Regions from separate parts of the Homo sapiens genome. Here region 1 is linked to region 2. Evidence: fine-mapped expression QTL. Tissue or cell type: whole blood. Region 2 holds a variant in brackets; the other region holds the start of a gene. All regions are shown on one strand. Distances are from middle to middle.

Region 1 (8,092 bases), 760 kb after region 2:
TCCGGGGTCCCTGGCGGTGAAAAAGAGCAGCAGCTTTGAGCTAACCTCTCCTCTGTGTATGCTACTTCCTCCCATCTTTGTCACTGCTTCTTTTTCAGAAGTCACTTTACAATTCCAGGGCTAACACAGGACAAGTGTTCACAATCACTCAGAGAGCCAATGTTCCCTAAGCCCCTACTCCACCCTGCAAGGTTCCGGCCCAGGCACCAAAAACCCTCAATCCCCAGCACAGCCCCTACCCCACCCACCTGGGTGGATTGCTGTCCCCCTGGGCAGGCTCTTCCTCCAGCTCCCCCATGGTAGAGCTGCGCTTCTCCACGATCTCGCCCTGGTCAAACATGGCATGAAGCCGATAATTGACAGTCTTGATAGTAGCAAAGATGACAGCCACCACGAGGCAGTACACGCCGGCCACCATCAAGCTGGGAGGCAGGACCTGAAGATGAAAGTAAGCCAGGTCCCTTTTCACAAAGCCTCGCCCCCACAGGATGTACCTGCCATCAACATCATAGCTGGGATTCACAGACTCACAAGAAAATTTCATCACCTCTCCACACAACCAGTACACAGACCTCGACAAAGGGCTCTGTATTCTGCTTAGCTGGATGAGATTAAGTGTAGGGTTCAAGGTCACTCGATCCAAGAAAGGAAGACTTTGGCCCCTCTTCCACACAGACCCAAACTCTGCAGTGATTCCTCTCTCTCCACGTCCCAGAGCCCAGGGCACTGCCCTGAATCCCTGCCAGGCTGCCCTCCCTCTCCCGGCTGGAGTTACAGGTGGCCGTGGCGTCTCACCATGTACAGTAAGAAGGGAAAGATGAGCAGGAAGATCCAGACATAGAGGTGGAAGCAGTTGGAGAAGGTGCTCTGGTGCGGGTCGAAGAACCAACCGCCGGTGAGCGAGGCCCACACCCCCTGGCGCAGGATCTGCAACACCTGCGACCCCATGGCCCCGCCGCTGCTGCCCGCGCCCCCCCTCCCGGGACCCTCATGGGGGCGGCCCCCGGCCCATGCCCCGTCTGGCGCCTGAGGGCCCCGGGGCCCGGCCTCACGCTCACGCCATGGCCTCCCCCAGCGGGGGAGGGGGGCTCGGCCGCGCGAGGGTGCGAGCAGGGGGCGGGGCCGGCCGGGACAGTCAGTGGTGCAAGGCCCGGACGCGGGGGTGGGGCTGCATCAGGGGCGGGGTCCGGGTCCCCACTCCTGGCCCAGAATTGCTCCGAGGGGCCGAGCCGGCAGGCAGGCGCGGGGCACGGGCCGGGTACCCGTCGGCGGCATCCAGAGGTGGTCGTGGGGTGGGTGCTCCCGGGGTGCAGGCGACAGCTCCCTAGTCTCCGGACCAGGGAGAACCCCAGGATCTGGGGTCCACTTTCGGGGTCGCAGGTCACTTGCTTGGGGCTCCGCGCTCGCCCGGCTTCTGCTGGTGCCGGCCTAAGGAGGAGGCCGGAAGAAGGAGCCGCGAACCGCCAGCCTGCAGTGGCGCATGCGCCCAACGATTCCAATTGGGACCCGGAAAAGGAAAACTTGACGGCATGAATGCGCAAGCGCAGAAAGGTGATGGCGCGGTAGGACGCGAGGGGTGCCCTTTGGGCGTGCGCAGACTCCAGGACTAAAGCAAGTTCGAGCGTAAAAGCGTTTGGGCGCATGCGTAGACCCAGGCGTTGCCAACCCAGGGTAGACGACTGGGCGGAACCAAAGAGACAGTTGAGTAGCCATTGGGTAACGGCAAAGTAATTGGCGCACAGCTCTTCCAATGAGTTACAGGAGGCGGGGAAAAGGTGGAGGCGTGGACTCCCCTAGTAGCAGCGAGAGTTCTGCACTACCGAAGCACGCCCCTCTCGGCCCGCCCCCTTTAATGCTGGACCTCGTACGTCACGACCGATTTCGCTCCCAGCGGCGTCTACTTCCGGGTCAGAGCTCAGACCTAGGGTGTAGAGAACAACCTTCCGTAACAGGCAGGAATAGTCGAAATAGGATAGCGTCGTCTTTCTTAAAGTGACAGGCTCAAAGCAATTGGGGCAGCCCTATCCAGAAGTTGTGAGGGCGACTCAGCTATTCTGAATCCAATCCTGGGCAAAGTTCTGGACAAGTCTCAGGTTTCTGCCAATGGGGAAGGGATATGAAGAAGCGGATTGTTTCCCAGGTGAGGAGAAGAAGAGAGCCTTAGGCAATCCACTCCAAGAGCTTGAGGTGCAGCCAGTTCCGTCTGTCCTCCAGTCTTCCCCACCCCATCCAACTAGCTCTACGAGGCAGAGCTTTCTCGTCCTCATATCATATATGAAAAGAATGGCCGGGCGCGGTGGCTCACGCCTGTAATCCCAACACTTTGGGAGGCCGAGGCGGGAGGATCACGAGGTCAGGGGTTTGAGACCAGCATGGCCAACATGGTGAAACCCGTCTCCACTAAAAATACAAAAATTAGCCGGCCGTGGTGCCACGCGCCGGTAGTCCCAGCTACTCGGGAGGCTGAGGCAGGAGAATCTCTTGAACCCGGGAGGCGGAGGTTGCAGTGAGCTTAGACTGCGCCATTGCATACCAGCCTGGGCGACAGAGCAAGACTCCGTCTCAAAAGAAGAAAAAAGAAAGAAAATAATGAGGCTCAGAATCGATGGATCGCACAGTCCCACAACTTCGCAGCCAAGACCAGACTCGGGTTCACCCCCTTCCCAAGTGTGGTTCTGTAACCCCGTTTTGCTGCCGCCGATGCGGATGCAGAGGGCAGAGATGGCCCATCCTTAGCAGAGACCAACCTCCACCCTAGGCAGCAGAGCACGCAGCTGGGGGCTTTTCTTTCTAGATCTCAAAAGCCTGCTGTGATGGGGGATCTGGTTCTGCCCTTTCCCTCTCTGCCTCTCCTGGCCCGCCTACCCGGGAACTCCCCGCCTGGAGCCTCTGGGAGGGGAGCGGTGCAGGCCGCCCGCGTCATCTGATGCTGTTTCCTGCAGGAGGGAGAAGAGCGGAAAAAAGTGAAACTCCACCCTCCACCTCTGCCTCCCGCCCCCGGGGCCAAAGTACAAAGGGAGGAGGAAGAAGGGAGCGGGGTCGGAGCCGTCGGGGCCAAAGGAGACGGGGCCAGGAACAGGCAGTCTCGGCCCAACTGCGGACGCTCCCTCCACCCCCTGCGCAAAAAGACCCAACCGGAGTTGAGGCGCTGCCCCTGAAGGCCCCACCTTACACTTGGCGGGGGCCGGAGCCAGGCTCCCAGGACTGCTCCAGAACCGAGGGAAGCTCGGGTCCCTCCAAGCTAGCCATGGTGAGGCGCCGGAGGCCCCGGGGCCCCACCCCCCCGGCCTGACCACACTGCCCTGGGTGCCCTCCTCCAGAAGCCCGAGATGCGGGGGGCCGGGAGACAACACTCCTGGCTCCCCAGAGAGGCGTGGGTCTGGGGCTGAGGGCCAGGGCCCGGATGCCCAGGTTCCGGGACTAGGGCCTTGGCAGCCAGCGGGGGTGGGGACCACGGGCACCCAGAGAAGGTCCTCCACACATCCCAGCGCCGGCTCCCGGCCATGGAGCCCTTGAAGAGCCTCTTCCTCAAGAGCCCTCTAGGGTCATGGAATGGCAGTGGCAGCGGGGGTGGTGGGGGCGGTGGAGGAGGCCGGCCTGAGGGGTCTCCAAAGGCAGCGGGTTATGCCAACCCGGTGTGGACAGCCCTGTTCGACTACGAGCCCAGTGGGCAGGATGAGCTGGCCCTGAGGAAGGGTGACCGTGTGGAGGTGCTGTCCCGGGACGCAGCCATCTCAGGAGACGAGGGCTGGTGGGCGGGCCAGGTGGGTGGCCAGGTGGGCATCTTCCCGTCCAACTATGTGTCTCGGGGTGGCGGCCCGCCCCCCTGCGAGGTGGCCAGCTTCCAGGAGCTGCGGCTGGAGGAGGTGATCGGCATTGGAGGCTTTGGCAAGGTGTACAGGGGCAGCTGGCGAGGTGAGCTGGTGGCTGTGAAGGCAGCTCGCCAGGACCCCGATGAGGACATCAGTGTGACAGCCGAGAGCGTTCGCCAGGAGGCCCGGCTCTTCGCCATGCTGGCACACCCCAACATCATTGCCCTCAAGGCTGTGTGCCTGGAGGAGCCCAACCTGTGCCTGGTGATGGAGTATGCAGCCGGTGGGCCCCTCAGCCGAGCTCTGGCCGGGCGGCGCGTGCCTCCCCATGTGCTGGTCAACTGGGCTGTGCAGATTGCCCGTGGGATGCACTACCTGCACTGCGAGGCCCTGGTGCCCGTCATCCACCGTGATCTCAAGTCCAACAACAGTGAGTTTCTGGGGGCATGGTTGGGGGTGGCATGGCTCTGGTACACACCTGCTCCCAACCTTCCACTGAGCCTAGCTTAGGGTCTACTGCAGGTAGGAGCTCCCACCCTAGGGGGTCCCAGCTGACCAGGGGTGCCCATGGGCTCAAGCTAGCCCCCAAACAGAGCCCCAGGCACCCAGCAGAGTCTTCCTGCGCCAGCTTCAGAAGTCCTTGACCCCAGCCTGCAGCTGCGGTTTGGACAAGTTAAGAAATTGGTATCTCTCAGGTGGGCCATAAGCATCCTGCCCAGCCATGGCTCCCACCTCAAGGAAGTCCTCTGGAAGCTCGTGCTCCTCATCTTCTCCTCCCCTAAATTCATGTTCGTGGAGTTGGTGCTCTGTCCTCCCCTCCCGTCGTCATGGGCAGCTCCTCCAGAACAGATATCTCAGAGAGGGAAGCCCTCCTTGGCAGTCAAGGCTAAGGCCAGGGCTGGAATTCTGGCCTAGCCCTCCCTGGCTTCATGACCTCTAGCTGGTTACTCCAACTCGGAGCCTCAATTTCAGAATCTGTAAAAAGGGAGAGTGAAACAGCTCAACAGCTTGGGCAAGCCCGACCTGCGATCCCCAACCCACAGCGGGTCCTCAGCCATGGAGATGGACATTTGAGGGCTGGATCGCCAAGAGGGCCTAGCCTGAAATCAGTGCTTGGGATGGGAGTGCTGGGCTAAGGGAGACTCCATCTCCCATCATTTCAAGCCCCCGACACGCTGCCCATCATGGCCCAAGAGAAGTGAGTGACAGCTTCAGAGGGTTTCCTGGTGCACGCAGCATTTAGAGAGAGAAGGCATGGAAGCAGGACCCAGCACACAGCAGGGACCAGGAGCAGGGGCCTCCTAGAGCCCAGAGTGCAGGCTGGAGAGCAGCAGTAGGAAATGCAGGAGGGGCCAGGCTCAGTGTGGTCACTGGAAAAGCATGAGACATTCTTAGAGGGGGGTCAACGTGGATATTTTGAGCCTCCTGGCCTGGGCTGACCATGGACAAGGGGCTTGCAGGAAACAGAGTGCTGAGCCCCAGATATCCAAGTTCTTGCCAGGACTGGGGGAGCCAGGAGAGGCCTGCCAACCATCCTACCCACTCTTCTCATCCCTGGTAGGGTGCGGTTCCCACCTCTCAGCCTCAACCCTGGGCTCTAACTATCTAGGGACCCCCGCTACCTGCCCCAATCTGAGGGGGATTCCCCGAAGGCACAGGGGGAGGGGACTCCCATCTTCTGTTTTTCCTCCGTTTTCTTTCCAGAAAAAATGGAACAATAGCCCAGGCCCCTGCTCCCCACCCTCCCCACTGCTTCCTGCGTTTCCTGCTGCCCCTGAGCCGGCTTCCTGTCCCTGCTCCAGCCCCTGCTCCCTCCCTAGCCCAGCTGCCTGCAGGGGAGGAAAGAGCTTGGGGTGGAGGACTTGCGGGAGGAAGGAGCCTGGAACTGCTCCCCTACTCCCCTCTAGTTCCCCTGCTTCCCTCTCAGAGTCTGGGAGGTGGTGGTAAAGGGCAGGCAAGGTGCCCTCAGCCTCCCTGAGCCTGGCATTTAACCTCGGAGACCCCAGTCCTAGGCCCAAGTTGCTGTCTGCAGGATTGGGGTGGGGGGAGTCCCTGGGCTGGTGGGGGGCACAGGCAGGAAACAATGGCATGATTTTCCTGGACAATGGGGGCCTTGTGAGGAAGCCTGGCGGGGAGAGGAGGGGGAATTCTCCAGGCCCACGAGTCACAGGACTGACCAGCCAGCCCGGCCTGGGCCTGACCTCCCCCAGTTCTCCCCAAAAGGACTCCCCCTCCCAAGTGGGAGACCTGGCCCAGGCCTCCCAGAAAGGAGAAGTAGGGACCACGGGAGGAAAGCGGAAGAGGTGTGAGCTGCCCAGGCCACTCCCAAGCCCCACAGAGGCCAGCCCAGGGAGGGAGCTGGTGGCCAGGTCCCTATCAGAGGCCAGGGAGCCCTAAAGGGGCACTGAGAGCTTCCCCCAGTTTCGGGGTCTCTGGCCCATTCTCCTCTGGGTGACCCCTGACCTCCCATGCCTGGGATCTACATCAGACACCAGAACAGCAGTTCGAGTTGGGACAGTTGAAAGCACAGAGAGGAGCTTGGAGAGAAAGCAGAGGATGGGGCTTAGCAGCTGGCAGAGCCAGGAGCGGGGAGGTAGCAGAAAGACCACAAGTACAAAGAAGTCCTGAAACTTTGGGTGAGTTGTTGCCCCTCTCTGGGCCTCAGATTCCCCACCTGAAAAAGGTGGAGAGTGGCCACCCGGCCTGAGATACTGGAACAGCACTTTGCCAGTCTGGGGTGCCACAAGTGGCTAGAGACAGGCCAAGAAGCAGCAAGTGTTGGTCTTCAAAGGGGAAGGTGGGCCCTGGCACCAGGGGAGGTGCCCATTTCCACTCCACCCACTGCCCCAGCCTGCTGTGTTTCCCCTTTGGAATGAGCTTGTCGTCGGGGGCTTGCTAAATGCTCAGGTCCCCGCCTCCAGCAGCCAGACCAGAGGCTGTTTTGAAGTTGGCAGTAAGGAGTGACAGAGGAGGGAGAGGAGGGCGGAGATACGATAAGTGCTTTAGGACAACTGGCCTTTAGGATGCTTCTGCCAGGTGGCAGCCCCCATGCAAAAACTTTAAAAGTGTGGTCTTGTTTCATGCTCGTGACAGCCATCTGAGGAGGGTTTTGTTGTCATCCTCAGCTTGATGAAGTGTTCAGGACTCAGCTCCAAGGTCTGGCTCAGAGGAGTGGGTAGATTTTGAGACCATTCTCTGGATTAGGAAAAATTGCAGGAAAATCTACTGGGCATGCCGGGATAGTAAAGGTGGTCATGGAGGGCACCTGGACATCAGGTAGAGCTGCTGAACCAATTTGTCTGGCCTGGAGTTGCAAATGTGGAAGATGCCAGTGGGGAGAGGGAGCTGGTACCTGGAAGAGGCTGAGTCAGCCAGGGGCAGTGGGCAGAGGTTGAGGAGAGGTCATGCTCTGAGAAGCACCAGCGCCGAAATGGCTGAAGGTGGAGGACACAGAAACAGAGCCAAGCAGCCAGGGGCTGTGGGGGCTGAGGACGGTGGGGCAGCGGGGACAGCTGGCAGCAGTGCCAGATGCCTCCTCAAGGCCCAGGTGGCCTGGCCAGCAGCAGGATCAGGGCTTGTTGCTTTAAGCCCTGAAAAATGAGCACCCTGGTTCTGCCACCTCCTCTGGGAAGTCTTCCCTGACTCACCAGGCTGTATTAGGTGCCCTTCCCATCTGCCCCACCCCCTGTGCCCTATGCTGCCCCCATGACAGCCGTGTCACACAGGGCAGGAGAGCTGAGAGGTGTGCCCTGACATGGGTCCAGAAACATGGTTGACTTGATATTGCTTCTCTTCCACAGTGCAGTTGGCTGTAACCTGAAAAGTAGAGGGGCCCTTCAGACCCTTCATGACTCTATGACTTTGTCCTCTTTCTATTCCTCGAAAACTTCTCTCATTTGAGCCATTCCTGTCCTGGTGAGAGATATGCAAGTTGCTGCTTCTCCTCTTTGTACCAAGTACGGTGGCCCCATTTGGGTTAAAGCCATGAGCCCCTGCCAAGTCTGACCATCCACGCCTACATTTACCCCAAGCTCCTCCTTTGTGGCCAAGAACCATCACTTTCTTGGACCCCACCCTTTCTCTTCCCTTCCAGCTGCATTGGTAGGTATCTTTTGGAGTCTTTGCTTTGGGAGTGGCTGCACTTGCCACAGTGTGATGTGGGCACTAGGGGCCTGTGGTACCTGCTGGGCTTCTTTTCTCACCAAGAGCTTCCCTCTTGCTCCCCACTCTAAGGGGGGTTCTGATTCACGCTCCTGCCTCAACAAAATGACAGGAGACTC
Region 2 (8,099 bases):
TAGTTTGGCAGTTTCTTACCAAACTAAACAGTCTTACCATATGACCTAGCAATGGTGCTCCTCGGCATTTAACCCAAATAAATTGAAAACTTATGTCCACACAAAAACCTCCACACAATTGTGTATAGCATCTTTATTTGTGATCACCAAAACATGGAAGCCACCAAGACGTCTTGAAATAGGTAAATGGATAAACAAACCATGGCAATTCATACAATGGAGTATTATTTAGCAATAAAAATAAATGTGTTGCCTGGGCGCGGTGGCTTATGCCTGTAATCCCAGCACTTTGGGAGGTCGAGACAGGCAGATCACTTGAGGCCAGGAGTTCGAGACCAGCCTGGTCAACATGGGGAAACCCTGTCTTTGCTAAAAATACAAAAATTAGCTGGGCATGGTGGCAGGCACCTGTAATCCCAGCTACTTGGTAGGCTGAGGCAGAAGAATCACTTGAACCTGGGAGGCAGAGGTTGCAGTGAGCTGAGATCATGCCACTGGACTCCAGTCTAGGCGACAAGAGTGAAACTCCATCTCAAAAATTTAAAAAATTAAAAAAAAAAGAAATGAATTATCATGCCAAGAAAAGACATGCAGGATCCTTAAGCACACATATAAATGAAAGAAGCCAGGTTGGGCCCAGTAGCTTATGCCTGTAATCTCAGCACTTTGGGAGGCTGAGGCCGGTGGATCACTTGAGGTCAGGAGTTCGAGACCAGCCTGGCCAACATGGTGAAACCCTGTCTCTACTAAAAATACAAAAATTAGCCAGGTGTGGTGGCTCGCACCTGTAATCCCAGCTACTCGGGAGGCTGAGGCAGGAGAATCGCTTGAACCTGGGAGGTGGAGGTTGCAGTGAGCCGAGATCACGCCATTGCACTCCAGCCTGGGCAACAAAAGCAAAACTCCATCTCAAATAATAATAATAATAATAATCATCATCATCATCATCATCATCATCATCATCATCATCAATGTTGAATGAAATTCAGTACACAGGTTTAACATTAGATTAAGTACAACCTAAAAATAAAATCTATTATTTATTTTTTAAAACCATGTTGATAATTTTTCTGAGCCTAGACTCTAAATCCTTTTTACATTTAGACAAAATGTATTATTTGCAAGGCTTGAATATACACAGCATTCTTCAGTAACACAGCTACTGTCTGTGTTGACGGACAGCTGCCCTTTGACTTCTTTGGAACTTGACCAGGACTTGGTCACATTTAAGAAAATCACATCCTAGCATAAAGAAAAGACAAATATTTAAGGTGATGGACATCTCAGTTGTCCTAGTTTGATCTTTACACATTATATGAATAGATTAAATTATCACATACACCCTGAAAATATGTACATCTATTATGTATCAAAAAAATAAATAAATAGGGCCAGGAGCGGTGGCTCACGCCTGTAATCCCAGCACTTTGGGAGGCCGAGGCAGGTGGATCACGAGGTCAGCAGTTCGAGATCAGCCTAACCAACATGGTAAAACCCTGTCTCCACTAAAAATACAAAAAAATTAGCTGGGCGTGGTGGTGGGCGCCTGTAATCTCAGCAATTTGGGATGCTGAGGCAGGAGAATTGCTTGAAACCGGAAGGTGGAGTTTGCAGTGAGCCAAGATTGCACCACTGCACTGTAGCCTGGGCAATAAGAGCAAAACTCTGTCTTAAAAAATAATAATAATAAGTAAAATAAAATAAAATAAATAAAAATAAAATTTAAAACATAAATGAGGAAAAAAGTTTTTTTTTAGGCCGGGCACTGTGGCTCACGCCTGTAATCCCAGCACTTTAGGAGGCTGAGGTGGGTGGATCACGAGGTCAGGAGTTCAAGACTAGCATGGCCAAGATGGTGAAACCCCATCTTTACTAAAAAATACAAAAATTAGCCGGGCATAGTGGCTTGTGCCTGTAATCCCAGCTACTAGGGGAGGCTGAGGCAGGAGAATCACTTGAACCTGGGAGGCAGAGGTTGCAGTGAGCTGAGATTGCGCCAGTGCACTCTAGCCTAGGTGACAGAGCAAGACTGTGTCTCAAAAAAAAAATTGTTTTTTTTTTTAAAGAAAAGAGGCTGGGTTTAGTGGCTTATGCCTGTAATTACAGCACTTTAGGAGGCTGAGACGGGCAGATCACCTGAGGTCAGGAGCTCGAGACCAGCCTGGCCAACATGGCGAAATCCTGTCTCTACTAAAAATACAAAAATTAGCCAGGCATCATGGCACACGCCTGTAATCCCAGCTACTCAGGAGGCTGAGGCAGGAGAATCGTGTGAGCCCAGGAGGCAGAGGTTGTAGTGAGCCAAGATCCTGCCACTGCACTCTGGCCTGGGCAACAGAGAGAGACTCCGTCTGAAAAAAAAAAAAAAAAGAAAAAAAAAGAGAAAAAGAAAAGAAAAAAAAAGGTAAGAAAAGAAAAGAAAATCCTGGCAAACTAGTGGGTCTCTGAGTGGCCAGTTTCACTGCATGCCTGTATCGCATGTGAGTTTGTAGCCGTGGATTCACTGCAGTTTTAGAAAGAAGGGCAAGCATTTGACAGCTTCATGTACCATGAATATTAACACATTCACACACACCATGTTATTACTAAATAATTTCCCTTATGATTCATCTGCAGTAAAATCAGGATATTATCTCGACATCAAATGTTATTGTGTATAGGTAGGTTTTGTTTTATATGAGTTTCATTGCAGGATAGTAACAAAATATTTATTACAAGGACGATGGAATCGGCTCCAGCTGACCGTCTGTGCTTTGAAATGAAATCTGAACTCCTTAATCAGCCCTCAGACTTGCCATAACCAGCCTGGCTGTTGTAGAGGCTCTGTCCCCTCCTCCCACCAATGCCAGCCAAAGGGATCTATTTGTATGTCCCAGAATGTGTCAGCACTCTCTTGTCCCTTGTCTTGGGACAGGCTGTTCTCTCCCTGAAATGCCCTCATCCTCTCCCTTCACTGTCTCAACAAATTCAGTGCTCCCTAGCCTCCATTCTCAAGTCCTTCCTTCACAACCTGTGCCATAGCTGTGCTGCACCAGCGGCCTCGCTTTTCTTTAAATAACTCATTTTCCATAAATAAATTGATTTTTCAAAGAAAAGTTGATATCATAATCATAAATAGGAAACCAGTATGAGTAGCCCTGAAAATAAAGTTGCTATAAAAATAAATATAAGAAAAATACAAGTTAATAACTTTTGATAAAATTGTCAGCAGACCCTCTGAGGCTAACTGAGGGGAAGGGATGGGAAGGCAGATTAAGAAGTGTTAGCAACCTGTTAACACCCTTGACATATTCAGAGGCTTGAAAGAAAATGGGAAGAATAACTTTCTCTTTCGGTGTAATTTAATGCTGTCTCTGTTCTCCCTAAAATCACCTGCATTTTACTGCAACCACCCATTTATCACTCAACGGCGCTAGATGCTGCCAGTAAACCAATGGACCAGATAAGCACAGCCTCTGCCCCTACAGACTCTCAGTCGGCTGGAGGAAAAACATAAGCAACCTGGGAATGGCTATAAAATGTCATTGCTTAAGAAAATAGTTTGTGGCCGGGCGTGGTGGCTCACGCCTGTAATAGCAACATTTTGGGAGGCCGATGCGGGCGGATCACCTGAGGTCAAGAGTTCGAGACCAGCCTGGTCAAAAGATGAGTTCGAGACTAGACTGGCCACCTCTTCAGTAGAGCTGGTGAAGCCCCGTTTCTACTAAAAATACAAAAATTAACCGGACGTGGTGGCATGCGCCTGTAGTCCCAGCTACTCCTGAGGCTGAGGCACCAGAATCGCTTGAACCTGCCTGGGAGGGGGAGGTTGCAGTGAGCCAAGATCACGCCACTGCACTTCCGCCTGGGCGACAGAGCGACACTCAGTCTCAAAAAAACTAGTTTGTGTTTTGGAGCCTCTCACTTCTCCAGCGTCCCCGATACGCCCGGGGATTGCAGAGAACCCACACCTATTCGTAGATTATGAGAGTAGGAGCAAATTAATGATTTATAGTCTTTTCAAATTTTTTTTTTTAACAGAAAAAGAGTAGGGAGTTGAAAGTAATGCTGTTTTTTTCCAGGCACTCCCGGGGACCCAGCGCGGCGAAGCCCGCCAGGATCGCGGGCGACCTGTGGCAGCTCTGGTTCCCCCGCCCGGGCCCGGCTCGGGTTACGCTCTGGGCGGGGACTCCGCAGCGGCTCCCTAGTTAGG[G/T]GGCGCCCCGGTGGGTTCCAGCTTTAGGGGTCGCAGGAGCGGCTCTGGCATCACCTCGGAGCTGACGAAGCGGGAAGAGCCCCGCACCAGTGCTGCCCCTACAGAGCTCTCGGCGGGGGGTGGAGGTGAGGTTACACCTCGTCCCTACCCCCGCCTTCCCCTCCGCCGCAGGGATCCGGGACCCGCCCCCGCGGAGAGGACGGGGGGCTGCGGGGAGGGGCTGTGCGGGGAGCGGGCGGGTTCCGCAGGCCCCTAGGTGGGGCGGGGCCCGAGCCAGAGTCGAGTCCCTGAGGCGGGTGGGGGAAGGAGAGACGGGTGGCGCGACCCTCTGTCCCCGCCTCGGGGCGGAGCCCAGGTCCCAGCCTGCGGAGCGCGAGACACGCCGAAATCCGCCCGAGGCTACCTGTGCGACTCCAGCCGCCCTGCACCGGAATCTGGGGAGACCCGCCCCCCGCCCCACCGGTCTGCGGCCCTCCGCCCCAGCGCAGGTGCAGGTGCGGCTTCTCTGCCCCTTTCACCCCAGGCGCATCCGCCGCGGCGGCCATGGCGCGAGGAGACGCCCCGCGGGACAGGTGAGTGGGCCCGGGTGCGTTGCAAGTGGCCGGGGGCGTTGCAGACCCGCTCCCTGAAGGCGCTCCGAGGCTCAGAGAAGACCGGATCGAACTACAATTCCCATCAGCCGACTCCCTCGGCCGCCGGAACCGGGGTGATCGGGGTTGTAGTCCGCTCCGGAGGGGGTGGCCTGGGAGGCGGGAGGGCCTGCGGAGGCGGGTGCGTCCTCGGGGTGACCTTCCCACCGATCCCCACAGCTACCACCTGGTCGGGATCAGCTTCTTCATCCTGGGGCTGGGCACCCTCCTTCCCTGGAACTTCTTCATCACCGCCATCCCGGTGAGACTCCTGGCGGCGTGGCAGCCTCGTGGCCACAGCCAGCACCCCTCCCTCCAGCCCTTTGGATGAAGCTTAGCGGGCGCTTCCTCACCGCGCACCTGTGACCCCTCGTTGAGCTCATTATGGGCTGAAGCTCGGAGAGGGGAATGCTTCCCCCGTGGCTAGGAAAGTAGAACTTCAGCAATGCCCACATCTCAGAGGGGCAAGGCCACCAGCCCACAGGGTCTGGAATGAGCAAAGGCGCTGCCACCCCTCTCTGTGTGTCGTTATTCCTGAGTCAGTCACCCCAAAAGTCGGTTATCGAACGTTTGATTTTCTTTGAAATACCATGAATTTCATTCATTCACTCATTCATTCAACAAACTTTTTTTTTTTTTTTTTTTTTGAGACAGAGTCTGGCTCTTTCGCCCAGGCTGGAGTGCAGTGGCGCCATCTCGGCTCACTGCAAGCTCCGCCTCCCGGGTTCACGCCATTCTCCTGCCTCACCCTCCCGAGTAGCTGGGACTACAGGCGCCCGCCGCCACGCGCGGCTATTTTTTTTTGTATTTTTAGTAGAGACGGGGTTTCACCGTGTTAGCCAGGATGGTCTCGATCTCCTGACCTCGTGATCCTCCCGCCTCGGCCTCCCAAAGTGCTGGGATTACAGGCGTGAGCCACCGTGCCCAGCCTCATTCAACAAACTTTTAATGTGCATCTACTGTGGAGCAGGCACTGGGGACACAGGAGGAAACAGCAGGGAGGCTCTTCAGGGAAGGCAGAAATGTGGGGTTTGCATTGTCTTTGGGACCGGGTTATTCATCTGTATTCACTGCAACAACTTTGCAAATGCTTCTTGGGTACTGGCTCTGTGCTGGGCCCTGGAAACCCAGAGATGAATCAGCCCCTGGGCTTGAGAGCAAGAGGGGGCCAAAGAGCTATTAATAATGTAACATGATGCGTGACATTCCAGGCTTGCAGCAGAGTGCAGTGGGTCCCCAGGGGAGGGAGAAAGTTCCTTCTGCTTCATGGAAGAGGAGATTTGTAAATTGGGAGTAGGGTAGGCAAAGTGCATGTGGAGGGGTGTGGTCAGTAGGGCATTCCAGGCCGAGGCGACAGCCATGCCAAAGGCAGGCAGGCAAGAGACGATCAGCCTGTTTAGAGGGAGATCCACAGCCAGGGCTGCCTGGAGCTTAGCAGGATGGAGCAGAAGATGGGGCACAAAGGGAGACTAGGATCTGATTCTGAAGAGCTGTTCCATTTGGGGCTTTGCCCTGCAGGCAATAGGGAGGCATGAATCGGGGTGTTGAGGAGTGAGGAGGTTAAGCAGAGGAGTGGCAGGCTATGTGCTCTAGAGAGAATGCAGTTGTTCAGCACCTAGGCCAAAGCCTGGCTGACAGTAGGCGCTCAATAAATACCCGTGGAATGAATGAATGTAGCAGCTGCTGCAGGAGTGGGGATGGGGGCTGGAACCAGGGCACTGAAGAGGAGGGGCCGTCCAAGGCTGGATCGAGGCTCTTGCTGGGGGCTCTTAATGCTTAGGCTGTGTCCCAGACTTCAGCCATTTAACTCAGCACACATTCATGGAGCTCCGACTGTGTGCCGGCTGCTGGGAACAGAACAAGGACAAGGCAGACAAGTCCCCACAGACATTAGAAAGCAATCACAAGTGAGGGGGAAGGCAGCGGGGGAAGGCTGAGAGGTGCTGACCCTCCACCACCTCCCCACCTGGCAGTACTTCCAGGCGCGACTGGCCGGGGCCGGCAACAGCACAGCCAGGATCCTGAGCACCAACCACACGGGTCCCGAGGATGCCTTCAACTTCAACAATTGGGTGACGCTGCTGTCCCAGCTGCCCCTGCTGCTCTTCACCCTCCTCAACTCCTTCCTGTACCAGTGGTGAGAGGCCTGCCCTGGCTCCTGCGCCCTCTGCCGAGGCAGCTTCATTGAGGCCCTCCCCTGCGCCCCCTGCCCCCCAGCCCTACTGCCCAGCCCCAGGTGTCGAGCCTCCTTCCCCAGCCCCCTCTGGCCTGGGCCCCACTGATGCACTCTGCCTGCTTCTGAGCAGCGTCCCGGAGACGGTGCGCATTCTGGGCAGCCTGCTGGCCATACTGCTGCTCTTTGCCCTGACAGCAGCGCTGGTCAAGGTGGACATGAGCCCCGGACCCTTCTTCTCCATCACCATGGCCTCCGTCTGCTTCATCAACTGTGAGCACCTCCACCCCCTCTCCAGCCAGCCTATGCAGGGCTTCAGCCTGGCCTCATCATTGAAAGGGCCCAGCATATCCGAGAAGGGCAGACAGCATCATGGTCGCTCATATCCCTGGTGAAGAAACTGAGGCCCACAGGGAGGGGAAGAGTCACTTGTCCGGTGACCTAGGAGCAGGCCTCCTGGTCAACAGCCCCACAGACCAATGGCTGCACCTCAGAAGAGGACTGAATAGCGGGTGTTGCCCCCGAGTGCTCAGAGTCCCTAGGGAAGCTCACACCTGCGCAACCTTGTCCAGAGTCCCCTGTGTATCCTGCCGGCACCTCCTCCAGGGAGCCTCTGAGTCTTGCCTAGTTGAGCAGCAGCCCCCATCCCTGTCCTCCACAGCCTTCAGTGCAGTCCTACAGGGCAGCCTCTTCGGGCAGCTGGGCACCATGCCCTCCACCTACAGCACCCTCTTCCTCAGCGGCCAGGGCCTGGCTGGGATCTTTGCTGCCCTTGCCATGCTCCTGTCCATGGCCAGTGAGTGCACTTGGGTGGCTGGAGGGCTGGGGTGGCCTCTGAGGTTTGGGGAAGAGAGAGGGCATGTGAGAGCAAGACACATGGGTTCTGGGTGAAGATGGAGGTAAGCAGGTGATATGGAAATGGGGATTGGGTCTGGGGCTAGGGAGTGGGGCTCATGGGCCCTGCAGTGAGGAGTAATAACCAAGTGAGGACTGGGTTAACTCAGGGACAGGGGCAGGATTCCTGGGGCTAATACTGGCATGTGGCAGCAGGTTGAAGTTGAAGGATAAGGGGATGGGTTTGGGATTCAGATAGTCTTGGGTTTGA

Evidence for each region. PIP is the estimated chance that this variant, and not a neighbour inherited with it, causes the effect.
Region 1: MAP3K11 starts here. The variant in region 2 is fine-mapped to the expression of MAP3K11 in whole blood (INTERVAL, PIP above 0.99).

Annotation. Positions count from the first base shown.
Region 1 is chr11:65,609,168-65,617,259 of GRCh38, reverse strand. MAP3K11 (mitogen-activated protein kinase kinase kinase 11) reads left to right here and starts at 3,039. Exons shown (of 10, transcript NM_002419.4): 1 at 3,039-4,242. The coding sequence starts at 3,504. It overlaps PCNX3 (pecanex 3), which reads right to left and starts at 1,484. Exons shown (of 35, transcript NM_032223.4): 1 at 796-1,484; 2 at 249-436; 3 at 1-10. The coding sequence starts at 948. RefSeq lists silencers at 990-1,239, 3,250-3,429 and enhancers at 1,370-1,419, 1,430-1,579, 1,860-1,949, 2,010-2,059, 1,942-2,828 and 2 more.
Region 2 is chr11:66,368,228-66,376,326 of GRCh38, reverse strand. SLC29A2 (solute carrier family 29 member 2) reads left to right here and starts at 4,567. Exons shown (of 12, transcript NM_001532.3): 1 at 4,567-4,764; 2 at 5,002-5,083; 3 at 6,795-6,958; 4 at 7,128-7,267; 5 at 7,656-7,790. The coding sequence starts at 4,736. RefSeq lists a silencer at 4,112-4,871. The variant G/T (reference allele first, on the strand shown) is at 4,193.